5 separate regions of the Homo sapiens genome follow, and all the other regions are linked to region 2. The links come from fine-mapping of genetic effects on gene expression. A gene starts in region 2. Each other region holds a variant in brackets. All regions are shown on one strand. Distances are between the middles of the regions.

The links. PIP is the estimated chance that this variant, and not a neighbour inherited with it, causes the effect.
Region 1: its variant is fine-mapped to the expression of FRAT1 in whole blood (INTERVAL, PIP 0.97).
Region 3: its variant is fine-mapped to the expression of FRAT1 in sun-exposed skin (GTEx, PIP above 0.99).
Region 4: its variant is fine-mapped to the expression of FRAT1 in whole blood (INTERVAL, PIP above 0.99).
Region 5: its variant is fine-mapped to the expression of FRAT1 in whole blood (INTERVAL, PIP 0.96).

The regions. Positions count from the first base shown.
Region 1 is chr10:97,283,106-97,288,208 of GRCh38, reverse strand. All of the region lies in intron 1 of ARHGAP19 (Rho GTPase activating protein 19), which reads left to right. All of the region lies in intron 1 of ARHGAP19-SLIT1 (ARHGAP19-SLIT1 readthrough (NMD candidate)), which reads left to right. Among named protein-coding and RNA genes, the nearest start is that of ARHGAP19, 7.0 kb to the left of the region's middle. The variant G/AG (reference allele first, on the strand shown) is at 2,023.
Region 2 is chr10:97,317,262-97,322,364 of GRCh38, reverse strand. It overlaps FRAT1 (FRAT regulator of Wnt signaling pathway 1), which reads right to left and starts at 3,094. Exons shown (of 1, transcript NM_005479.4): 1 at 450-3,094. The coding sequence starts at 2,911. The coding sequence ends at 2,072. RefSeq lists enhancers at 1,710-1,869, 2,959-3,253, 2,991-3,780 and silencers at 2,210-2,309, 2,810-3,119.
Region 3 is chr10:97,338,126-97,343,228 of GRCh38, reverse strand. LOC105378448 (a long non-coding RNA gene) reads right to left here. Exons shown (of 2, transcript NR_188201.1): 2 at 26-422. Among named protein-coding and RNA genes, the nearest start is that of FRAT2, 5.9 kb to the right of the region's middle. The variant A/G (reference allele first, on the strand shown) is at 2,554.
Region 4 is chr10:97,359,698-97,364,800 of GRCh38, reverse strand. It overlaps RRP12 (ribosomal RNA processing 12 homolog), which reads left to right. Exons shown (of 34, transcript NM_015179.4): 30 at 898-947; 31 at 4,183-4,255. Among named protein-coding and RNA genes, the nearest start is that of FRAT2, 28 kb to the right of the region's middle. The variant A/G (reference allele first, on the strand shown) is at 2,380.
Region 5 is chr10:97,350,220-97,355,322 of GRCh38, reverse strand. No RefSeq gene overlaps it. Among named protein-coding and RNA genes, the nearest start is that of FRAT2, 18 kb to the right of the region's middle. The variant A/G (reference allele first, on the strand shown) is at 2,294.

The sequences.
Region 1 (5,103 bases), 34 kb after region 2:
TACATATGTAAATATTGAATGCAGAATATGTGATCATTTAGAACTGCCCAGCTTTTTGTTTTTTCATCATTATTTTAACACTGCTCCTAATAATTACAAATGCTTTAACTTCTTTTAATAAAATATTTATTTATTTATTTATTTTTGAGACAGAGTTTCGCTCTTGTTGCCCCGGCTGGAATGCAATGGCACGATCTTGGCTCACCGCAACCTCCACCTCCTGGGTTCAAAAGATTCTCCTGCCTCAGCATCCCGAGTAGCTGGGATTACAGGCATGTGCCACCAAGCCCGGCTAATTTTGTATTTTTAGTAGAGACAGTGTTTCTCCGTGTTGGTCAGGCTGGTCTTGAACTCCCGACCTCAGGTGATCTGCCTGCCTTGGCCTCCCAAAGTGCTGGGATTACAGGCGTGAGCCACCGCACCCAGCCAAAATATTTATTTTAAAAAACTTATTATGATTTTTTTTGAGACAGGATCTCACTTTGTGGTCCAGGCTGGAGTGTAGTGGCATGATGATGGCTTACTATAGCCATGACCTTCTGGGCTCAAGCAATCCTTCCACCTTAGCCTCTCAAGTAGCTGGGACTACAGGCATGCGCCACCACACTCGGCTAATTTTTAAAATTTATTCTAGAGACTGAGTCTCCCTATATTGCCCAGGTGGGCCTCAAACTCCTGGGCTCAAGCATTCCTCTTGCCTTGGCCTCCCAAAGTGTTGGGAATATAGGTGTGAGCCACTGCACCTGGCCAAAGATTTAAACAAGGAAAAATTGCTCTGCCTATAAAGATTCCCATGTTATGTTTTTGACCTGTTGATGAGGAACACCCCCTCCCTTCCATTTCTGGTTTTTATTAAGTAGAATGGTCCTTTAAAATTTAACACATTTCATTTCTTATACCTTCAAGTTACTCTTAAGCAGACAATACTAAAGGGGAATCACAAATAGAAAATATCCACTGCCAGGCATGGTGGCTCACGCCTGTAATCCCAGTATTTTGGGAGGGGGAGGCAGAGACAGGAAGATCACCTGAGGCCAGGAGTTTGAGACTAGCCTGGGCAATATAGGGAGATCCTATAAAAAAAATAAAAACACATAGCCAGGTGTGGTGATGCACGCCTGTGGTCCCAGCTACTTGGGAGGCTAAGGTGGGAGGATCACTTGAGCTCGGGAGGTGGAGGCTGCAAACAGCCATCATCCTGCCATTGCACTCTAGCCTGGGTGATAGAGTGAGACCCTGTACAAACAACAACAACAACAAAAACAAAAAAAACTATCCACTTTATCAATAATAGTATAAACATAATACAGACCTTTAAGGGTCAAAGAGAAAAGGCGAAAGCAGGAAATGAAATAAAGCTACTTCTCCTCATAATTGGCAGTAGGGAAATACGCACAGCTTAGTATTTTTTAATTAAAAAGAGACTTAAAAAGAAAGTGCTAACTATTATTACATGAAGAGCCAGCTTAGGAACAGACAGTAGAATGCCTGGAAATGTTTCTGGAGGACAGGGGAGGTGTCTGAAGATGTGGAAAGGGTTCTATGTCTTGTTAATTTACATATACCTTAGGTATGGAATATTGGTTAGTAAACATGACTTCTGAGCCTTGGTTTTTTGACACGGAGTCTCGCTCTGTGGCACAGGCTGGAGTGCAGTGGCGCAATCGTGCCTCACTGCAACCTCCGCCTTCTGGGTTTAAACAATTCTCCTGCCTTAGCCTCCTCAGTAGCTGGGACTACAGCCATGTGCCACCACGTCCAGCTAATTTTTGTATTTTTAGTAGAGATGGGGTTTCATCATGTTGGCCAGGCTGGTCTTAAACCCCTGACCTCAGGTGATCCACCCACCTTGGCCTCCCAAAGTGTTGGGATTACAGGTGTGAGCCACCGTGCCTGGCCTGAGCCTTTTGGTTAAATTGCTTTTTCTGTAATAAGACAGTAATGTGTTCCTTCGAGAAAAATGGTTTAAAAGGTTTAAACCTTTATTGATCCCAGGAAGACTTGTCTGTTCTTACATGCACA[G/AG]TTAAGTGAGAAAACCTGAATCTAGTTTTGTATTTGTGCTGTTAAATTCTATCTGAAGGGTAATGAGGAGTAGATTTCTTCAGGGGATTTTCTTGAATCTGGTTTTATTTTACATTTTATCAATGATCAGGTTTAGAGAGTTTGATCATATTTGTAAATAAGGCCTGTCTTGGAAGGAGGGGAAGGAAGAAAACAGAATTTTAAAATTAATCTGCATAAACTGGTAAGTGGCATGAAACCACAGCATAAAGCAAAGCAGATATTGTTGCACAAGTTTACTTTGGTCAGAACAATTGGGTCGGTAGTGTTATAAAGAGTGATATAGGAAATCTGTAAACTTTTTGCTGTAAACATTACATTTGGCTTAGGCCAAGCATGGTGGCTCACGCCTGTAATCGCAGCACTTTGGGAGGCCGAGGCGGGCAGATCACTTGAGGTCAGGAGTTCGAGACTAGCCTGGCCAACATGGTGAAACCCTGTCTCTACTAAAAATATAAAATTAGCTGGGTGTGTGGCGGTTGCCTATAATCCCAGCTACTAGGGAGGCTGAGGCAGGATAATTGCTTGAACCTGGGAGCTGGAGGTTGCAGTGAGCCGAGATTGTGCCACTATACTCCAGCCTGGGCAACAGAGGGAGAGACTCTGTCTCAAAAAAAAAAAAAAAAAAGCAAAAAAAAAAAGAGAAAATTATCTAGGTATGGTGGCACATACCCGCAGTCCCAGCTACTTGGGAGGCTGAAGCAGGAGGATCACTTGAGCTCAAGAGTTTGAGGCTGCAATAAGCTAGAATGCCGCCACTACACTCTGGCCTGGGTGACTGAGACCCTGTTGTTAAAAAAAATAAATAAAAATAAATTTGTTTTAAAAAATTGTATTAAAAAACATAACAGTTTATCATCTTACCTATTAAGTGTGTAGTTAATTAATGTTAACTACATTCGCATTGTTCTGTGTCCAGCCATTTTTTATATGGAACATCTACAACCTACAAATCCATTGAAGCTTTAAGAGTATATACTTTCGGCCTTGCACAGTGTCTCATGCCTGTAATCCCAGCACTTTGGGAGGCGGAGGCGGGCGGATCACCTGAGGTCAGGAGTTTAAGACCAGCCTGGCCAGCATGGTGAAACCCCGTCTCTACTAAAAATACAAAAAATTAGCTGGGTGCAGTGGCATGCACCTGTAATCGCAGCTACTTGGGAGGCTGAGGTAGGAGAATCGCTTGAACCTGGGAGGCGGAGGTTGTGGTGAGCTAAGATCACACCATTGCACTCCAGCCTGGGCGACACAGCGAGACTCAGTCTCACAGGAAAAAAAAAAAAAAAAAAAAAGTATATGCTTTTTTTTCTTTCTTTCTTTTTTGTTAAGAGTATATAGTTTGGCTAAAAGTGGTGGCTCTCATCTGTAATCCTACCACTTTGGGAGGCTGAGGTGGTAGGATCACTTGAGCCCAGGAGTTTGAGACCAGCCTGGGCAACCTAGCAAGACATTGTCTCTACTAAAAATAAAAATAGTTAGCCAGGCGTGGTGGCACATGCCTCTGGTCTCAGCTGCTAGGAAGGCCGAGGCAGGAGGATTGCTTGAGCCTGGGAGGTCAAGGATGCACTGAACCGTGAGTATGCCACCATTCTAGCATGGGCAATAGAACAAGACCTTGCCTCAAAAAACCCCCAGTATATACTTTTTTCCCCTCTTCCCCACTATGAAATAAACTTATATAATATTTACTACAGAAGGCTAGAAAAATATGTAGAAAAAAATGGGGGCTGGTCTGAGTGTCTCACGCCTATAATCCCAGCACTTTGGGAGGCCAAGGTGGGCAGAACACTTGAGGTCAGTAGTTCGAGACCAGCCTGGCCAACATGGTGAAACCCTGTCTCTACTAAAAAGACAAAAATTAGCTGGGCATGGTGTCGCACATCTGTAATCCCAGCTACTTAAGAGGCTGAGGCAAGAGAATCGCTTGAACCTGGGAGGCAGAAGTTGCAGTGAGCCAAGATTGCACCACTGTACTCCAGCTTGGGCAACAGAGTGAGACAATGTCTCAAAAACAAAAAGCAAAAAATACAAATAAAAATAAGAGAAAAAAGCTAGGTGTGGTGGTGTGCACCTGTAGTCCCAGCTACTGGGGAGGATGAGGTGGGAAGATTGCTTGAACCTAGGAGCTTAAGGCTGCAGTGAGCTATGATGACACCACTGTGCTCCAGCCTGGGTGCCAGAGTGAGACCCTGTCTCTAAAAAAAAGAAAAAAAAAGGAAAGAAAAATATGTAGAAAAATGGTAAACTAGCCACTCCAATTTACCAGATAGATACAACCATTATTAATATTGAGACAGTTTTTTTTTTTTTTTTTTTAATAGAGATGAAGTTTCACTATGTTGTCTAGGCGGTCTCAAACTCTTGGGCTCATGTACTCCTCCCACCTTGGCAACCCAAAGTGCTGGGATTACAGGTGTGAGCCACCATGTCTGGTTCCTTCTGAGTCTTAAACTGTAATGCCTCTTATCTAAAATATGACCCATCCAAGATCTGATTTCTATCTTGGTTTCCCAGTTTCCTCCCAATAAGTGCATCATTTCTGGTTGGAAACAGTATAGCAAAAGAGTGATTGAAATACAATTTTTTTTTTTTTTGAGACAGAGTCTCACTCTGTTGCCCAGGCCGGAGTGCAGTGGCATGATCTCAGCTTGCTGCAGCCTCCGTCTCCTGGGTTCAAGCAGTTCTCCTGCCTCGGCCTCCCGAGTAGCTGGGACTACAGGCATGCGCCACCATGCTGGCTAATTTTTGTATTTTTAGTAGAGACGGGGTATCACCATGTTGGCCAGGTTGGTCTCGAACTCTTGACCTCATGATCCACCCACCTCAGCCTCCTGAAGATGCCCTCTGGTCACCTTCAGTGAACACTCTCACCTACACTTTTACTAACCATCTTTTAGGGTGGGTTGTTTCTACAGATGCTGGAGCCTATTTATTTTGTGCTGATGTTTTGCTACTGTTACCCGATATAAACTAAATTCAGCTAGGCCATAGAAACTACATAGTAACAGCCGGGCGGGTGGCTCACGCCTGTAATCCCAGCAC
Region 2 (5,103 bases):
GGTATAAATGTGCCAGGGGCAAAGACAGGAGTCTTTTGTAAGTTTCCACCCAGCTTTCCTACCACCAGGCTCACATTGTGAGCAGTCTCCTAATCAAGAGCTGCCCCAGCCTTAAGGCCCACCTTGTGGAACAAGTGCACTTAATGGCCACGGTGAGAAAGAAGAAAAAAAGAAAAAGAAAAAAAAAAAGATAAGCCTCCCAGTTTGCAGTGACTGGCTGATCTGATGTCCTTTGCTAATAGAGGCAGCTTTATAACACATCTCCATCACTGACTAGTAATCCAAAAGGCTCTGAGGTTTTAACGAATGGGATTGGTCCAAAACCTGACCTCACTTTCATTTAATTTCATGCCAGCTCCAATACACACCCAGCTGCGGAGACCTTGTCTAGCTAGTGAGCTGCTCAGACACAAAGGCGCTCTAATTACCATCCACAAGCCAGGCTGACAGAGATTTCAAGTGTTTTCATGTTTATGGAGATCAGAGAAATGTGTTCTGTACATCTTTTTCACTGATGGCAAGTATAAAATAAAACCAAACAAAAAACCCAACACATTTATTCAAAGCAGGCATTTCAGTTAAGTTAAAATCCTATAATCAGGATAGCCACAATTCCAGACACTCCGGTGCGAAGTGTAGATATGTCAGTAGCCACATCTGGATGATGAACAAGCCATTGACTATAAAAACGAGAACAACAGCACAGTCTCAGCGCCTTTAGAGTGAGTGAACAGTATGTTCCAAGCACTTCACCATGGTTCACAATGGCAAAGCCTGCAGCTTCTCCATTTGGAGGGTCACATTTTCTACTCGGTTTCCTGCACTTACAAAGGCCAGCTGGCATGGCTGGGGGAGGGGCAGAGGGAGGAAATCAACTCGTCTATCCAGGGAATTGCAGCTGTTATTGCAAATGGCCCCGGAGAGCCCATTATAAGCTGCTGTGCTAGGCTGTGTGTCCCTGGAGTGTCCATCACATGGCGTCTCCCTAGCCCCCAACCCAGGCCCCCAGGATCCCAGAGCCACCCGCTTGAGTAGGACTGCAGAGCCGAGTAGGAGAGGAGGAACCCAGGGCCCGGTCTCGGGAGTTTCCGTGAAAGCCCGGAGCGCGGCCAGGGGCGGTGGTCGCCTACCGAAGCACAGCCGCCCAGCACGTCCGCGCTTTCCCACACCCGCGGTGGCGGCGACGCGCGTGTCCTCAGGAGACTCCAGCACTTGCAAAACACTGCGCTCTTCTCCGAGCACCGGCAGAACCTGGCTACTCTGTCCCGCAACCCAGTGCGTGCCCAGGAAACAGTGACCTTGAACCGAGGAGAGGCGGGCCGGCTCTGAAAATACACTTTAGACAGGGCGTGGGGTTCACTCCGCGCCTCTCTACCCTTCCACCACCATTCAATACTCCCCGCCCCCACCTCCTTTCCCCACCCGTGTCGTACAGCCTTCCCCCACCACTCTGAGAAGAGAGACAGTTGCAAAGAGAGCGCAGGGGTTAACTCCTATTCAACCCCCAAAGGGTCCCTTCATGGCACCGCATGTTTGGTATTAAGCAGCACCTCCAAAGACACAAGATGGTTTTTTTAAGTCTGGCAGATTGGGCTGCACCCTGAAATTATCTACTCATGTTCTCCTCCCCCAAAGTGGATCAGGAGCCAGCCCTGAAAAGGTAAAGCAAGTAACTGGCATCATCCTCCGTGGTTCCGGCGCACCGCGATCCGGAGAAGCGTGGATTGTGGCCACATGGTCGCGGGGCTGGAGGGCACTGAGAGGCTGCGAGGAAATGCAGGCTCCGCGGCCAGGTCGGGTCACGCCAAATAAGGAGTCCTACTGACTTGTACGTTTGAGGTGCGCTCTGTAAAATCTGCCTTAAATAGGGCCAAAGTCCTTCATTCCAAATATTTTGGCCCTCAACCCCAGTTACCCGCGAAACACTCGCGATTTTTCGGTTCCTCGTCATTAGCTTTTTACTCTCGCTTCCAAAAGCCAGAGTTCTCCACCAGCCTGAGTAGAACTGCAGCCCTCAAGGGAACCCCTTGCCCTCCAGTCTGAGGCTGGCGCTGTGGCCACCCCGGGCGTGTTAGCTGCCAGGCACAAGAACGCCGTCGCCAGTTCTGAGCTGCGCCCTCCCGGAGGCGCCAGGGTCACTGCAGGCCGCGCGAGGGCTGCGAGGCGAAGGGGGTTCATGCACCGGGGCCGACAGAGGTCCCAGGAGCGGGCGTTGGGGAAGCTTTGCACGTAACTGCAGCCGTCGCGAATGAAGCCTTCGCACGGCCTCCTTGATGAGGTTTCCAGAGAGCACTAGCTGCTGCAGAAGCCGGTGCGGGTCGTCGTCGCCTGTGCGGGTTTCTGGTTGGGACCCGCGTCGCTGCTGCAGGCGGCGGGAGGCGGCGGCGCCCCGGAGCCATCCTCGCCGGCACGGACCCGACAGCGGCTGCGGGATGCCCTGCTTGCCAGCTCCCGGAGGCCCATCAAGGTCGGCCTGAGGGGGCAGTGGGGACAGCGCGCTGGGGCCTGTGGCGAGCTCGGCCACGCAGTAGGGCGCAGCGCGGCCCCGCACGCGGCCGCGGTCCCCCAGGGCGCAGCGCAGGACCCCAGGGGGCGCCGGGCCCACAGTCTCCGCCAACGCGGGCGGCAGCAGCAGCGGCACCGCCGGGGACCTGGCCTTGTCCGCCGGCACCGCCGCAGCCAGGGGCCCCGGGGCCCGCAGCGGCGCCCCCGGGGGCCCGCACGGCGAGGCCGGGCTGTGCTGCGCCGCGTCCAGCTGCAGCGTCTCGCCGATCTGGGCCACCAGCCGGTCCACCTCGCCCGAGCTGCCCAGCGCCACTGACTGCTGCAGTAGGAGGAAGCTGTCCTCCTCCTCTTCCTCCCCCTCCGCCTCCTCGCCGGCTTCCTCTTCCTCCTCCCTCCGGCACGGCATGGCCCCCTGTCTGGGCACCCGGAGCTGTGCGGGCGTCGCTGGGGGCTCGGCTGCCGGCGGGCGCGGTGGGCCGCGGCGGAGCGGGCGCGGAGCTGAAGACTAAGTCTGGACCGGGGCCGGGGCGGACGCGGAAGCCGGAGCCCGCCAGGCACTCTAGCCGCGCGCCTGCAGCCGCGGGAGCCGGAATCCTGCCGGCTCGGGTTGATTTGTAAACAATGGGTGACGTCACGTCGGGCCCTACCACCGCGCCGGGGAGGGGGTGCTGTGCCGCTGGGGGACGGCGCTTCTGTGGGATTGGGGGTCTGGGTGAAGCCGGACTGCCTTCTGAGCTCCTTCGCTCAGGGTGCTGTCTGCAAGGGCGCCCTGGGGACCTGATCCTGGCTCCCGCAGTCGGGCGCGATTGGCATTTCCAGAAATGGGCACCAGCGTGAACCCTGTTGGTTTCTTCCACACACAAGCAAGCACGCACACTAACACACACCCACCCACCCACACACCCCTTCTCTCCGTGCGTCAACTCAACCGGTTTTTAGCGTTTGCGCTTTTGAGGTCCGGCATGCGGGCGTCTGGTGAGGATGGAAAGGAAAGGGAGTCAGGCTAGGGATTTGTACGGAGATTAGGGAAATGAAGCTGACGGGAATGGAAAGGAAGAAGGGGACCTTGTCGTTCGATGGAGGTGGCAGAGTTGGAAATGGCAAAGAAAGGCCACAGATTAATGTTTTTTGATCGAGATCCTGGGCGGATGGGGGCCTGGACTGGGGTTGGCATTGCTGGAGAGGAGGTTGCTAGTCTTTTTGTTTATTTGTTTGTTTGTTTTTTTGAGACGGAGTCTCGCTCTATCGCCCAGGCTGGAGTGCAGTGGCTCGATCTCCACTCACTACAACCTCCGCCTCCTGCGTTTAAGCAATTCTCCTGCCTCAGCCTTCCGAGTAGCTGGGATTACAGGCGCCCACCACCACGCCCGGCTAATTTTTGTATTTTTAGTAGAGACGGGGTTTCACCATGTTGGCCAGGCTGGTCTCGAACTCCTGACCTCAGGTGATCCACCCGCCTCAGCCTCCCAAAGTGCTGGGATTACAGGCGTGAGCCACTGCGCCCGGCCTAGGTTGCTACTCTTTTTGTTTTGTTTTGTTTTTTTGAGACAGAGTTTCGCTCTTGTTGCCCAGGCTGGAGTACAATGGCGCAATCTCCGCTCACCACAACTTCCGCCTCCTGGGTTCAAGCAGTTCTCCTGCCTCAGCCTCCCGAGTTGCTGGGATTACAGGCATGCGCCGCCATGCCCAGCCTAATTTTGTGTTTTTAGCAGAGATGGGGTTTCTCCATATTGGTCAGGCTGGTCTGGTACTCCCGACCTCAGGTGATCCACCTGCCTCGGCCTCCCAAAATCCTGGGATTACAAGCGTGAGCCACCACGCCTGGCTATAGGTTGTTAGTCTTAAGAGGGGCTATGTCCAGAAAGTTGTTTAAAAAAAAGCCTCAGACCAGTAGGGGGGATGGGCTCTGAGGAGGTACGTAGTAGCAGAGAAAAATACCTGTTTGGATGAAAATGGAGATACGCTTCCTTCCTTCCTTTCTTCCTTTTCTTTCTCTTTCTTTTCTTTCTTTGACAGAATTTCACTCTGTCACCCAGGCTGGAGTGCAGTGGTGTGATCTGGCTGATTGCAGCCTTGACTTCCCAGGATCAGGTGATCCTCCCACCTCAGCCTCCCGAGTAGCTGGGACAATAGGCACGCGCCACTACACCTGGCTAATTTTTGTATTTTTAGTGGATACAGGGTTTCGCCATGTTGGCCCGTCCGGTCTCAAACTCCTGGACTCAAGCAATCCCTCCTCCCGAAATGCTGGCGTTACAGACATGAGCCACCGCGCCCAGCCTGGAAGCAACTTTAAAATTCTGAGCATGATATAGAAAATAGGATACAAAGAAAGAAATGAGCCTGGAGATCCAGATAAATAGAAAACGAGGGTCTTGTTGGGCAGTTCCAACGATAATAATTATAGGAGCAAACCTTTAGGAAGGGATGAGTGCAGGAAAGAGGTAGGGAAGTTGGTTTAAAAAGAGTTGGGTTTGTTTTTGTCAAGTGTGGAGGAAAAAATGTAAAAACAGAGGAAGAGACAGTTTAAACAAAGCCATTGGATTTCTAATCTACGAAATCTGGATTTCTACAGGGTGTCATAAGGTTCATCACCTT
Region 3 (5,103 bases), 21 kb before region 2:
AGAGTGGAATTACTGGGTCATATAGTAAGTTTATGCTTATTTAATCTTTTAATAAATTGCCAAACTGTTTTCCAAAGTATCTGCACCATTTTACATTCTCATCAGAAACGTAGGAGGGGTTCCATTTCTCCACATTGTTGCCAACAGTTGGTATTGTCCTTTTTAATAGCCTTCTAGTGGGTGTACACTGGAATCTCATTATAATCTAATTTGCATTTCCCCAAGGACTAATGATATTGAGCATCTTCTTGTGTACTTGTTAGTACATAGGTAAGAATGAACTTAGCGTCCTCCAGTCTGCATTTCCAAATGGGCAGGCAGGTGGGTAGGGTTTATATTTTCCCAGATGAGGTCATGTGATCCCTCTGTGGATGAGATCAGCGCTGGCTCTGAGGAGATCCTTGGTGTCTACCTGCAGGAATCTGAAATGGTAAAGAGAAGGCATCAGGTGTACTTGCGGCTGGGTGCAGTGACTCATGCCTGTAATCCCAGCACTTTGGGAGGCCGAGGCCGGTGGATCACTTGAGGTCAGGAGTTGGAGGCCAGCCTGGCCAACATGGTGAAATCCTGTCTCTACTAAAAATACAAAAATTATCTGGGAGTTGTGGTGCCTGCCTGTAATCACATCTACTTGGGAGGCTGAGGCAGGAGAATCGCTTGAGCCCGGGAGGCAGGGTTGCAATGAGCTGAGATCATGCCACTTCACTCTAGCCTGGGTGACAGAGCATGACTCCATCTCCAAAAAAAAAAAAAAAGTGTACTTGCATGTTGGGGTCTGCAGATGGGTGGAGTCATCTGCCCTTTCTTTTCCCCAAGAAACCAAACTACCCAGGGAGGGACACCCAGAATTGCCTCAATGAAGCAAGCCACCCTGTGTAGGAGACACTCACTGGGATTCTGTGAAATAGGGGGCCTGTGAGAGCTGGAAAACAATGTGGCAGCTGTCTGGAATGGAGGCCAATAGTAACTCAACTGGGCTGTGGCAGAAGAAGGAAGGCATTGGGCTGTGTCTGATCAGAGCCTGCGATTTTTCCATCAGTCCTAAACTGGCGTTTGCCTTCTCTGTTCACATCTTTGGGATCTGCCTCCTCTGTCAGTCCCCTAAGCCTGGCACTTCTGTGGGTAGAGCTCCTCTTCAAATGCAAATCAGGTCTCTTTGCCCACCCGCACTCATGAACTTTTTCATGGTACTTAAATGTGCTGCGCTCTCTCCACCTCTCTTTTCCCTGATAACCTTTATCCCTGTGCATTAGGGTTATGCTAGATGCTGTAACAGACCTCAGAATTTCAGCATTTAACACAATAGAGTTGTTTTCAAATTCTCAAAATGTGTGTGAGCCGGGTGCAGTGGCTCACACCTTTAATCCCAGGGCTTTCGGTGGCTGAGGAAGGAGAATTGCACTTTGGGAGGCTGAGAAGGGAGTATGGCTGGAGCCTAGGAGTTGGAGACCAGCCTGGTCAACACAGTGAGACTTCATTTCTACAAAAAATAAAAAATATTAGCCAGGCACGGTGGCACACATTTGTAGTCCTAGCTACTTGGGAGGCTGAGGTGGAAGGATTGCTTGAGCCCAGGAGGTTGAGGCCACTGTGAGTCGTGATTACACCACTGCACTTCAGCCTGGGCAGCAGAGTGAGATCCTGTCTCTAAAATAAATAAATAGGCTGGGTGTGGTGCTTCATGCCTGTAATCTTAGCACTTTGGGGAGCTGAGATGGGTGGATTGCTTGAGCCTGGAAGTTCAAGACCAGCCTGGACAACATGGCAAAACCCCATCTCTATAGAAAATCTACAAATTAGCTGGGTGTGGTGGTGTGCACCTGTAGTCCCAGCTTCTCAGGAAGCTGAGGTGGGAGGATCACTTGAGCTCGGGAAGCGGAGGTTGCAGTGAGCCAAGATCATGCCACTGGACGCCAGATGGGGAGAGAGTGAGATCCTGTCTTAAAAAAAAAATTGCAATAATAAAATTCTCAAAACAATCTATATAGCTATTCCAGGTTGTGTGGTGCTAGTGGTATTGTGGAGTTGCTATCTCCCACACTAATATGAAGAAGGTTTGTTCTTTCTCTTTTTTGAGACAGGGTCTCTCACTCTGTCACCCAGGCTTGAGTACAGTGATATGATCACAGCTCAATAGATCCTCAACCTCTAGGGCTCAAGCAATTCTCCTGCCTCAGCCTCCCGAGTAGCTGGGACCACAAGCACACCCCACCATGCCTGGCTGATTGTTTTTTTGTTTTGTTTTGGTAGAGATGGGGTTTTGCCATGTTGTCCAGGCTGGTCTTGAACTCCTGGGCTCAAGGGATCCTCCCACCTTAGCCTCCCAAAGCTCTGGGATTACAGGCATGAGCCACCATGCTTGGCCAGATGTGATTGTTTTACATCAGCAAATAGATTAGATTGCAGTTCCAACTACAAAGGAAGAAAGAAGTGGATCAAATACTGCATAAAGTATATAATTATTTTTATTGAGGCAAAATTCACATAACATAAAATTTGCCATTTTATTATTTTATTTATGTATTTATTTTTTCAGAGTCTGTGGGGCGGGGA[A/G]GTGGTCTCTCTTTGTGCTCAAGCTGGTCTTGAACTCCTGGGCTGAAGCCATGCTTCTTCCTCAGCCTCCTAAGTAGCTGAGACTACAAGCTTGCAGCCCAGTGCCCTGCTTAAAATTAGCGATTTCAAGGCTGGGCGTGGTGGCAAGGCCTGTAGTTCCAGCTACTTTGGAGGCTGAGGCAGGAGAGTCATTTGAACCCAGGAGGTGGAGGTTGCAGTGAGCCAAGATCATGCCACTCCACTCTGTCCTAGGCAACAGAGCAAGACTCAGAAAAAAAAAAAAATAGAGATTTCAAAGGGTGGCCATTTCAGTGGCATTCAGTACACCTGCAATGCTGTGCAACCACCACTTCTAACAGGTTCCAAAATTTTTCCATTACCCTAAAGGAATACCCCTTGCCTGTTAGCAGTCACCCCCTACCTCAATCACCCCCGCAGCTCTAATCAACTATCAATCTGCTTCTAACTCTATAGATTTACCTGTTGTCGATATTTCATGTAATTGGTACCATACAATATATGAGCTTTTTTTTTTTTTTTTTTGAGACAGAGTCTTGCACTGTTGCCTGGGCTGGAGTGCAATGGCGTGATCTCAGCTCACTGCAACCTCTGCCTCCCGGGTTCAAGCCATTCTCCTGCCTCAGCCTCCCAAGTAGCTGGGATTACAGGTGCTTGCCACCACGGCCGGCTAATTTTTTGTATTTTTAGTAGAGATGGGTTTTTTGTTTTTTGTTTTTTTTCTTTTTTTTAAGATGGAGTCTCGCTCTGTTGCCCAGGCTGGAGTGCAATGGCACGATCCCGGCTCACTGCAACCTCTGCCTCCTGGGTTCAAGGGATTCTCCTGCCTCAGCCTCCCGAGCAGCCGGGACTACAGGCATGTGCCACCATGCCCAGCTAATTTTTGTATTTTTTTTAGTAGAGATGGGGTTTCACCATGTTGACCAAGATGGTCTGGATCTCTTGACTTCATGATCCGCCCACCTCAGCCTCCCAAAGTGCTGGGATTACAGGCATGAGCCACCGCGCCCGCCCTATATTAGGTCTGGCTTCACTCAGCATGTTTTTGAGCAAAATGTTATAGCATGTATCAATAGTTCATTCCTTTTCATGGCTGAATAAAATTTTGTTGTATTGGCCAGGCACGGTAGAGATTGCCGCCTTGCACTCCAGCCTGGGCAGCAAGAACGAAACTCCATCTCAAAAAAACAAAAAACAAACAAACAAAAACCAAAAAACTTGAACATCAGGCTGGCACGGTGGCTCACACCTGTAATCCCAGCACTTTGGGAGGCCAAGGTGGGCAGATCACCTGAGGTTGGTTTCATGTGCGTCCGTGTGAAGAGACCACCAAACAGGCTTTGTGTGAGCAACATGGCTGTTTATTTCACCTGGGTGCAGGCGGGCTGAGTCCGAAAAGAGAGTCAGCGTAGGGAGATAAGGGTGGGGCTGTTTTATAGGATTTGGGAAGGTAATGGAAAATTACAGCCAAAGGGGGTCGTTCTCTGGTGGGCAGGGGTGGATCTCACAAAGTACATTCTCAAGGGTGGGGAGAATTACAAAGAACCTTCTTAAGGGTGGGGGAGATTACAAAGTACATTGATCCATTGATCAGTTAGGGTGGGGCAGGAACAAATCACAATGGTGGAATGTCATCAGTTAAGGCTGTTTTTACTTCTTTTGTGGATCTTCAGTTACTTTAGGCCATCTGGATGTATACGTGCAAGTCACAGGGGATGCGATGGCCTGGCCTGGGCTCAGAGGCCTGACAGTCGGGAGTTCGAGACCAGCCTGAGCAATGTGGAGAAATCCCGTCTCTACTAAAAATACAAAATTAGCCAGGCATGGTGGCGCTTGCCTGTAATCCCAGCTACTCAAGAGGCTGAGGCAGGAGAATCGCTTGAACCTGGGAGGCAGAGTTTGCAGTGAGCTGAGATCACGCCATTGCACTCCAACCTGGGCAACAAGAGCAAAACTCCATCTCAAAAAACAAAACTCGAACATCCCTAAGAGTATTTCTGCTCCCTAGAACCTATGCCAACACCACCCTCAGGGTCCACATGATGAGTCTTCCCATACATATTATTCTCATGTAATATAACCATTTCATAAAGAAGGGACCGTCCCCCATTTTACAGATGAGGAATCAGAGGCACGGAAGGATAAAGTGACCCCATCCAGGTGGTATTCCCAAGCCTAGTGTTCATCCCACTGTACTGTAGCTAATGTCTCTGAGGGCAGGTAACTTGAAACAAGGTCTGTGTGGAAAGCAAACTCCTTGCAGAGAATTTCAACGCAATCTAAGTGAATGCAGAAAACCCTTGAATTCTGTTCTTCCCTGGGCGATTGTGAATGCTGTCCGAGAGTGTGTCTTTCCAGGCAGGGAGCCAGTGTGCTGGGCTCACAAGTTCTCATCGCTTCCCTTTTTGATACCGTCTCATTACTTTTAATTGCATCTGAGTCTTTCTAGCATCTTGTATTTTGCTTCCTAATCCAGGGCATTTCTCTGCCTCCCACTGGTCCAGCACAGCACTTCTCTCTCTCAGAGCTCTC
Region 4 (5,103 bases), 42 kb before region 2:
CAGCCTTTAGGCCTGATTCCCCCAGAACTCCTGCCAAGCCCAGAGGAAACCCAGTCTTCAGCCCTTGGTCATGTGCTTTCTTTGGAGATAGAGTCTCGCTCTGTCACTCAGGCTGGAGTGCAGTGGCTCGATCTCGACTCACTGCAGTCTCCATGTCCTGAGTTTATGTGATTCTCCTGCCTCAGTCTCCCAAGTATCGGGGACTACAGGCGTGCGCCACCATGCCCAGCTAATTTTTGTATTTTTAGTAGTGATGGGGTTTTGCCATGTTGCAGACTGGTCTTGAACTCCTGACCTCAGGTGATCCTCCCTCCTCGGCCTCCCAGAGTGCTGGGATTACAGGTGTGAGCCACCACACATGGCCGGTCACGTGCTCTCTATCGTCTTTTGGTTGTTGATTGACTTTGCCTGAGTTTCTCTTCCCTCCAATTGGTCAGTTTCATACTTTATATTCCCACATGGAGCCCAGCACATACTGCATGGGGCAGAGATTTCAAACAGGAGAATGAAGCCTTCCTGGCACAGTGGGGGTGTGTATGGGGCTGCAGGAGCGCCTGACTCCCCCGGAAACCTGGGGCTTTCTTCAAATCTCAAACAGATGAAGGGTGGGTGAGTGGGAAAAGAAAAGTTTCAAACGAAGCCATATTCACCTCAAAAGTAGGATCACCGCTTCTTTGAGGGGCCGTTATCCCTAGGGCCTAGGGTGGGAAGGAGAAAGGGGCAGTGCTCAGGGGTCTCATCTCTTCTAGCAGAAGGATGATATTGGTCTGAGGAAGGCAATTTTCTGGGGCCGGAGTTGGTGGCCCCGCAGCCTGGTGAGCCAGGAGGGGGCAGAAGGAAAGGGTAGGTTTTGAGGAGCTCCCACAGCGCTCATGGGCCTCTCTTTTTTGGCTCCAGGCGAAGATGAAGAGATGGCTGACCCAATGGAAGATGTGATCATCAGGAATGTGAGTAGTTCCTGCAGATGGGGGGCTAGGGCTTCAGACCTAAGCCTGGGCTCCACAGCTTCTCACCCCCACCACACGTAGACATTGGAACTGCCCTGTTTCTGGAATGCTCGGTGCATCCTCACAGGTGTGCATAGCAGGCGGTCCAGAAGGTTGTGGGTGCCAGGCAGGACAGGGTGATGGTTGTCTAGTTAAAGGAGAAAGAAGGCAGAGACCCTTGTCTCTCTAGCGAGGGCATGTGCTATGCAGGGGCAAGGGCAGCAGCTTCCCTGTGTGCTCCTGCATGGGGTGGGGGCATCCACCGTAGGGGAGCATGGCTGTGTGCCCAGCACTGTGCTGAGGGCCCCACATAGCCTCACGAAGATAGGGACTCCGTTGTCCCAGTGACCAGAGGAGCGTACAGAGGTAAGTAGCCTGCCCAGGGTCACAGGACTCAGTCTGTGCAAACCAGGAATTTGAACCCTGGTTTTCCAGTCTCCTAAGCCCAGGAATTCAACCTCTTTGCCACCATTACCCCTGTTGACCTGGCAGTGCTGCCTGCCAGGATGGAAACAGCCTCTCAGCTGCCCCACCTGAACCAACAAGGGTGAAGTGGGCCCAACCCATCACCCAACACCTGTCAGTCTCAAGCTCAGTGGAACATTTCCATTCTGGAGCAGTTTCTTCCCTCTCTGCCCTTCCAGACTATGCCCCAGCCCATCCAGCCTTCCTGGGCACCACCCGTAGGTGACAGAGCCTACATCAGGGTATAGTGATATCGGTGGGGAAGCGGCAGACTCTGGGGTCCCATCTTGGCTTCAGCCTAACCTTTTAAAGCCTCAATTCCTGATCTGTAAAGTGGGGTTATAAATAGACCACCTGGTGGAGTCATTGGGACAGTTTGGTAAGATTGGGCGTGTAAAGTGCATTAGCATAGTGCCTGAAGTGTTACAGACTTCCCCCACATCCCCGTTTTCATTGGCGTCATGTTTGTCAATGTCTGCCCATATGCCTTGCCAAGTGTCCATCTGCCCAGTGTGGCCCGAGGAGGAGTTTGTTATTAGAGCATTGTGACAGCGCAGAATTCTGTTTGAAGAGCTGAGTACATATCCAGAGTCTTGGGTCAGAGAGTAGCTGAGGACCTGAGCAGCCTCTGATGCGGGAAGCCCCTCTGGGATGCCCTTGAGGAAAAGCAGTGGGGCTTCTGCTGAAAACCCTCCTGCCCCTCTCTGCGCCCAGGCAACCACTCCTGTGGGACAGCTTCACCTACTGGGAGTCCTTCCTCTGCTTGGTCTGACATGGGCCCCTCCGAGAGGCCACCCTCAGGCCAGTCTAGTCTCCCTCTCCAGGTGATGGCAGTCGTCTGCCAAACGTGTGTCTGGGCCCAGACTGCCTGGGCTCAAGTCTTTGTTTCTGTGTACAGTGCTTGCCACTTAGTGATGCAAAGTAAGCC[A/G]TTGTGACTTGATTATTCACTTTTCCTGGAAATCTTTTTCCATTCAAAGCCTCCTGGGTTCCTTAAGCACATCTTCACATGTGGCTTTGCAGATCCTCGGCAGCCTACTCCTCTCCCTGGCCGGGGAGAACCGACCACGGCTTTCTAAGGATGTCCCCCACTGCCCCGGGCAGAGCGGGACTGAGCAGATGCCTTGTCTCCAGGCACTGAGAGGGCCCCAGGGCAGTTGCATTCTGTGGCTGGCTCCTGCCACTGAGACCCCCAGAGGGTTTCTTGCATGGCACTTAGTTCTAACTCTTTTTTTTTTTTTTTTTTTGAGATGAAGTCTCACTTTTTCGCCAGGCTGGAGTGTAGTGGCGCAATCTCGGCTCACTGCAACCTCCCCCTCCCAGGTTCAAGTGATTCTCCTGCCTCAGCCTCCTGAGTAGCTGGGATTACAGGTGCATGCTACCACGCCCAGCTAATTTTTGTATTTTTAGTGGAGATGGGGTTTCATCATGTTGGTCAGGCTGGTCTCGAACTCCTGACCTCGTGATCCACCCACCTCAGCCTCCCAAAGTGCCAGGATTACAGGCGTGAGCCACCGGGCCCGGCCAAGTTCTAACTCCTCGGCCAACCATTGTGGAAGCATGAAGTGCTGGGGTTCAAGTAGCTGCCTCCATTCAGGGCCAGCAGGCTGGGCTGTTGGCCAAGCACCAGCTGAACCAAGAGCCAGCTCAGCCATCATCCCCTACATTGCAGTCGGAGTCAGCTTCCTCCCGGTTCCTGTTTCTCCACTAGGAGCCCACTCAGCTGGGCTTCGGCCAGTGGACCTGGAGTCCCCCGTCTCCCAGGCACACCCTGTGTGTGCTGCAGCCTGTTCGCTCTGCCCAGGCCGATCCCTTTACCTGGCATACCTTTCCCCTGGTTGGCCTCTGGATCCCCTGGGTAGCTGGAGCCCTGGGAATCTGCAGTTTCTAGAGGTTTCTGGGGCACAGTGGCACAGACCACAGTGCAGGGACCAGCCTTGCCAGCTGGGGCCACCTCTGTTTGCCTGCCCTCCCTGCACAGCACGCCTCTGCCTGGCCTGGTTGTTGGTTCTAGGCTCACATCTGATGGGCTGGGGCCGCTGTCGGGCTCTCCCTCCTTCCCTTGGACTGCCTAACACAGTGCCAGGCGCACAGTAGGTGCTCTGTCACTTCCTGTTGAATATAATTGACGAGCTGACGTGTCTTACTGTCCATGATCATACCTGCTGGGATGGTAGCATTGTTGAGGATCAGTGATGACTGGCTTGAGCAGGGGTCTCCCACCCGCCTGAGAGCCCGTGGAGCACAGGAACTAGATCTTGTGCCCTGTGTCCCCAGGGCCTGGCACTTAGTAGGGGATCAGTAAGTGAGTGATTAATAGGGAGAGTGGGGTGGGGTTTGTGTGAAGCAAAGAACTGGTAAAGCTATTCTCTCTGAAGAGGCCAGGGACCTCATTTTCCCCATTAGGAAGGCTGGGTAAGCTGATGTCAGAAGCCCTCTGGGCAATTGCAGGCCTGGGTGGGGCCCAGAGTGGAAAGGAAGAGCAGGAACGGCCGCCACCAGCCCGGCAGTCAGGACATGGCCAGAGCTTCTCTTCTGCACTGCCTGGCTTTGTGATCTTGGACAGTTCCTTGCCCTCTCTGGGCCTTAGTTTCCCCATCTGTAAGTGAGAGGTGGGGTGCTTAGCAGAGGGCCTCTCCTGCTTGATGCAGGGTACTCTGCTGTTACTGTTGGCATTCCCGAGGGTGGGCACATCCCCTGGTTCACTCACTACCCACCTATTCTCTCTCTATAGAAAAAGCACCAGAAGCTCAAGCACCAGAAAGAGGCTGAGGAGGAGGAGCTGGAGATACCCCCTCAGTACCAAGGTGAGGCTTCCACTCCTCTCTCCTGGGACACATGGATCCCTGTCACCTGCATTAGGGAGGGGAGTCACAGGAAGGGGTGGCAGGGCCATGAGGGTGCACAGCCTGGTTGCACTCACTTGGCACCAACAGAGGTTGGCTGATATGACACTCAAGATGGGCCTGGAGTCTAAGGGGCCCTGGGGGTGTGAGAGAGCCTATGGGTTAGGAGATCTGTGCATGGAACCACCAGCCTTCTGAGGAGCCCTGAGCCACAGCTCCTTCCCACCCGCCCAGGCCTCCCAAGAGGCTTGAGTCTGTCCCTTCTGCGAGCTGCTTGCCTCTCTTGGTCACCCTAAGAGCACCAACCGAGTCAGGCTGGGTTTAGAGAAGCCACTTGGCCGGTGCCAGGGCTGGGAACTGGGAAGGTTGGTATTGGGTCTGGCCAGAGGGTTCCCCTCTATTTCTATCTCTGGGCCCACCAGCTGTTGCCCTCCTAGAGCAGCTGCTAGAAGTGCCAAGGTGGCTTCACCTCTGCTTCCTTCCTCCCAGGGTAGCCTTGCAGGACCCCTGCCCCCAAGCCCTTGCAGCAGAGCCCTTGCTTTGCATCTGGAGGTCCAGGGGCTCCTGTGGGAAGCCTCTGATTCCAGTAGCTGGTGTGTCCTCAGCCCTAGAGCATCATAACGCAGCTGCACAACCTCATGGCTCTTCCGCCTGTGGCACCCATGAGCCAGGGCCAGCTCACCTACTGTGCCCTGGGATGGAGTGATGCTGAGGCAGGAGTACCTGCCAATTGATGAGGCAGAGACCTGGGGTCAGGGCTGCTTGCCCAACCTCTGCTTAGCTGTTTGACCTTGGCCTGGTTACACTGT
Region 5 (5,103 bases), 33 kb before region 2:
AGTTCTGGGATTACAGGCGTGAGCCACTGCGCCCAGCTTATTGGTGTTGTTTGTTTGTTTTTTAAAAAAAGGCCAGGCACGGCTCATACCTGCAATCCCAGCACTTTGGGAGGCCGAGGCGGGTGGATCACCTGACCAACATGGAGAAACCCCATCTCTACTAAAAATACAAAATTAGCCAGGCATGGTGGTGCATGCCTGTAATCCCAGCTACTCGGGAGGCTGAGGCAGGAGAATCACTTGAACCCGGGAGGCAGGGGTTGGGGTGAGCTGAGATCGCATCATTGCACTCCAGCCTGGGCAACAAGAGTGAAACGCCATCTCAAAAAAAAAAAAAAAAGAAAGCGTGAAGCCAACCTCCTTGTTATATATAGCACATTTTCCAAGGAACTTTGTTTTCTTTTAAAGATGGGAAAGGCAGGTGACCTAGAAAGGTTGGTGTTAGTGATGTGCTGAATGCCATATTCTTTTGGAAGTAGACTTCAAATGCAAGTGATCTTGATGCAGAGGCAAGAATTAATCTTCACCCTGAAACTTCAGGTGTATTTTGAAAGTCAGTGTTCTTGAGGCCGGGCGCAATCACTCACACCTGTAATCTAGCACTTTGGGAGGCCAAGGCAGGTGGCTCACCTGAGGTCAGGAGTTCAAGACCAGCCTGGCCAACATGGTGAAACCCTGTCTCTACTAAAAATACAAAATTAGCTGGGTGTGGAGGCACACACTAGTCCCAGCTACTCGGGAGGCTGAGGCAGGAGAATTGCTTGAACCCGGGAGGCGGAGGTTGCAGTGAGCTGAGAGCGCGCCTTTGCACTCCAGCCTGGGTGACAAGAGCGAAACTCTGTCTCAAAAAAAAAAAAACAAAGTCAGTGTTGTTTCAACAGTGTGGCGAAAGAGAGTCTTAGGAGTGTTCATCAACAAAAGATTCATCCAATTTTAGGGTGAATAGGAAAGTTGAGAGCTCTCACTCTCCAGATTTTCAATTTGTGCTTTTGGGAATGTCAATCTGAGGCTTGCTTTTCTGGGGTCCATCCTCCACTCATTCTCAGAAATGGAAAACAGGTCCTACCCTGCTTGACTACGAAAACCGCAACCCTGCAGTTGGCCAAGGGAGTGGTCAAGCTTTGGGGATTTGCAAAGGCGGTCTAGTCATGTCCACATTGTGACACTTCTGGCCATGGGTGAGTCAGGTTAAACTGACCTTGCCCCTTCACTATTTCCCTTCTCGTGATTGTGGCAGAAGGCTTGGTGGGGACTGTCCTGGCAGTTCATTCCTGCCAGTGGCCATCTTTAGAGCTAGTCCTACTTACAGCATGATCAGTCCCAAGAAGGGTGTTTTTTCTGTACTGTTTGCAACATGTAACAAAATTGCTTATGAAGTTCAGGTAGCCTGTTTTCAGTCCTCAGAGTCCTTTCCCCATTTTTTCTTTCTTGGTTGCTTATGTTTCCTCAAAGGGTAATTTTAAAAATTAAAATCGTATATATTTCACTACAAAAGTGATAAAGATTCCCAGAACATTTGGAAAAAACAAAAGTAAAAGTAGGGGCTAAAATCCTTCCACCAAATTCTGTTATTACTAGTGCATTTCATTCTTTTTTTTCTTAATATACGTAGGGCTATTTTTTTTTTAATTAAGGAAAAAATGTAAGGCCAGGCACAATGGCTCACACCTGTAATCCCAACACTTTGGGAGGCTGAGGCGAGAGTATCGTTTATGCCCAGGAGTTTGAGACTGGCCTGGGCAATATAGTGAGTCCTTGTCTCTACAAAAAATTAGCCAAGCGTGATGGAGTACACCTGTAGTCCCAGGTCCTCCGGAGGCTGAGGTGGGAGAAGAGCTTGAGCCTGGGAAGCAGAGGTTGCAGTGAGCCGATATCATGTCACTATACTCCAGCCTGGGCAACAGAGTAAGACCCTATTTCAAAAAAAGGAAAAATGGGGCCAGGTACGGTGGCTCATGCCTGTAATCCCAGCACTTTCGGAGGCCAAAGCAGGTGGATCATCTGAGGTCAGGAGTTTGAGACCAGCCTGGCCAACATGGTGAAACCCCGTCTCTACTAAAAATACAAAAAAATTAGCTGGGCATGGTGGTGCGTGCCTGTAATCCCAGCTACTTGGGAGCCTGAGGCAAGAGAATTGCTTGAATTTGAGAGGCAGAGATCGCAGTGAGCCGAGATCACGGCACTGCACTCCAGCCTGGGCAACAGAGCAGGACTACATCTCAAAAAAAAAAATGTTTTAAAATGCAAGTTTACACTTTATATATATATATGTGTGTGTGTGTTTTGAGACAAG[A/G]TCTTGCTCTGTCATCCAGGCTGGAGTGCAGTGGCACAGTTACAGCTCACTGCAGCCTCAAATTCCCTGGACACAAACAATCCTCCTGCTTCAGCCTCCTAAAGTGTTAGGATTACAGGCATGAGCCACCATGCCTGGACAATTTGTGTTCTAAATTTGCACTTGACTAAAGTTCTTACCGTATACTAATGTAAATGCTTCATAAAGATCATTTCCTTTTCTTTTCTTTTTTGAGACGGAGTATCACTCTTGTTGCCCAGGCTGGAGTGCAATGGCGCGATCTTGGCTCACTGCAATCTCTGCCTCCCAGGTTCAAGTGATTCTCCTGCCTCAGCCTCCCGAGTAGCTGGGATTATAGGTATGCACCACGACGCCCAGCTAATTTTTGTATTTTTAGTAGAGATGGGGTTTCTCCATGTTGGTCAGTCTGGTCTTGAACTCCCAACCTCAGGTGATCCGCCCACCTCGGCCTCCCCAAGTGCTAGGATTATAGGCATGAGCCACTGCACCCGGCTATAAACATCATTTTCAGTAGCTCAGCTTTAAACATCTGCCCAGCGGACATAGTTCAGTTTACAAAGCATCTTTGAGTCCATAAGTATGTTGTTCTTTGCTGTATGCAGGAATTTAATGCCATCACTAGATGCCAGACCGTGTGCAAAGGAGTATTTAGAAAATGCCGTGATGACTACTCTATGTTCTATTTTCGATATACATTATTGTGAATAGATAGATGACTGTACTCCAGAAAATAACCCTGATTTGGGACAATGTAAGCTGGTTTGCCATTTCCTGAAATTATGCTTGACGTAGCTACTGCCATTAGAAACACCAAGCTGTTAGAGGCCAGCTGAGTTATCCAAGGCCAGGGATGCAGTGGCACATTTCCTCCTCCCATTCCAAATCTCAATGATTCGTCATGGAAATGCCTGGATTTGGGTTTTGAGGCCGTGGTCAATCATCAGTAAATACTGACTAAGAACGTAGGTAGATGGTGTAGTGGCTTGCTGCTGCATACTCATTCCAGGGCTGAGGACTGGAGATCAGCTTTACAAGTCTAAAATTGGGATTGATGCTGGGTGCAGTGGCATGTGCCTCTAGACCCAGCTACTTGGAAGGCTGAGGTGGGAGGATCACTTGAGACCAGGAGGTTGAGGCTGCAATGCACTTTGGTCCAGCCTGTTATAGTCACTGCACTCCAGCCTGGAACTCTAAATAAATAAATAAGGATAAAATCAGGATTGATCAGGTTCAGAGAAGAAGATACAGATTCACATGAGACCTAGTCGAAATTATAATATATTAATTTATAATGAGAACTATAACTGCCCAAGATACTCAAGGTGACTGCTCAGCACATGCTCCCTTGCATAGGAAGCTGAAACCAGTGTGTTTTCTGTACTGGGGGCATAAAACAGGGCAAATGGAATCATGCAAGTGATATGTGAATAATATTGTCATTGGGGTGGGACAGTTTTGTCTCTGGGGATATATCTGCCTACAGGGGCCCATTCTCCTAGCAGCCTGTTGGGGCCCTGCCCCTCTATTTTGGTTGGCTGCAGAATGGAACAGATCCTTCCTCTCTGGTATCTTGTAGGGCCTTTGCAGCCATTTACCTGCTGTTCAGAAGCTGTTCTGAGATTTTTTTTTTTTTTTTTGAGGCAGAGTTTCGCTCTTGTTGCCCAGGCTGGAGGGCAGTGGCACGATCTTGGCTCGCTGCAACCTCCGCCTCCCAGGTTCAAGCGATTCTCCTGTCTCAGCCTCCCAAGTAGCTGGGATTTACAGATGCCTACCACCACTCCCGGCTAATTTTTTGTATTTTTAGTAGAGACGGGGTTTCAGCATGTTGGCCAGGCTGGTCTCGAACTCCTGACCTCAGGTGATCCACCCACGCCTCAGCCTCCCAAAGCGCTGGGATTAGAGGCGTGAGCCACCAGGCCCAGCCTGTTCTGAGATTTAGTAAGGCTTCCTTCACAGGCAGGCATGCCTGGATTGAATTTCCAAGGCCAGTTCTGGCTTTCACCAGAGAGACATCCTGTTCCTTCTGGGGCCTTGTTCAGATAACTAATCCTGTCCCTCGTGTAGACTTGAAGGGTTTAACTTCCAGAGGGCAGCCTGATTTCCAAATTCCAGGGATGTCACCCATCACCCATTACAGAGCTGATGATTTTAAGTCAGAATTTCAAAGAGGATGTGAGGCACTGATGACAGGCAGATGGATTTGCAACTGGTGCCAGGAATAACCTGTATAGCCCTCATGGTCCTCCACCAGTGAAGGTTCTGCAAGCTCTTGGAAGTCTTGGTTTTTTGTTTGTTTGCTTTTTTGAGACAGAGTCTCAATCTGTCACCCAGGCTGGAGTGCAGAGGCATGATCTCAGCTCACTACAACCTCTGGGTTCAAGCAATTCTCCTACCTCAGCCTCCCAAGTAGCCGGAATTACAGGTGCATGCTGCCACGCCTGACTAATTTCTGTACTTTTAGTAGAGATGGGGTTTCACCATGTTGGCCAAGCTGGTCTTGAACTCCTGACCTTAAGTGATCCGCCCGCCTCGGCCTCCCAAAGTACTGGGATTACAGGTGTGAGCCACCATGACCGGCCAGAAGTCTTGTTTTTAACCAGAACAGTTGCTATGCCATAGCTCTTGGACTTGAGGCCACTGAGCCTGAATTACATACACAGTAGATAACCTGAGACCAACCCTCAGTTGTAAATATGCTCATAAAAATGACAAGGCACAGTGTTGCCCTGAGCAGATTTTATGTGTATCGATTGGATCATTGTGTGATAATACTTATCTAAAAACGCCTT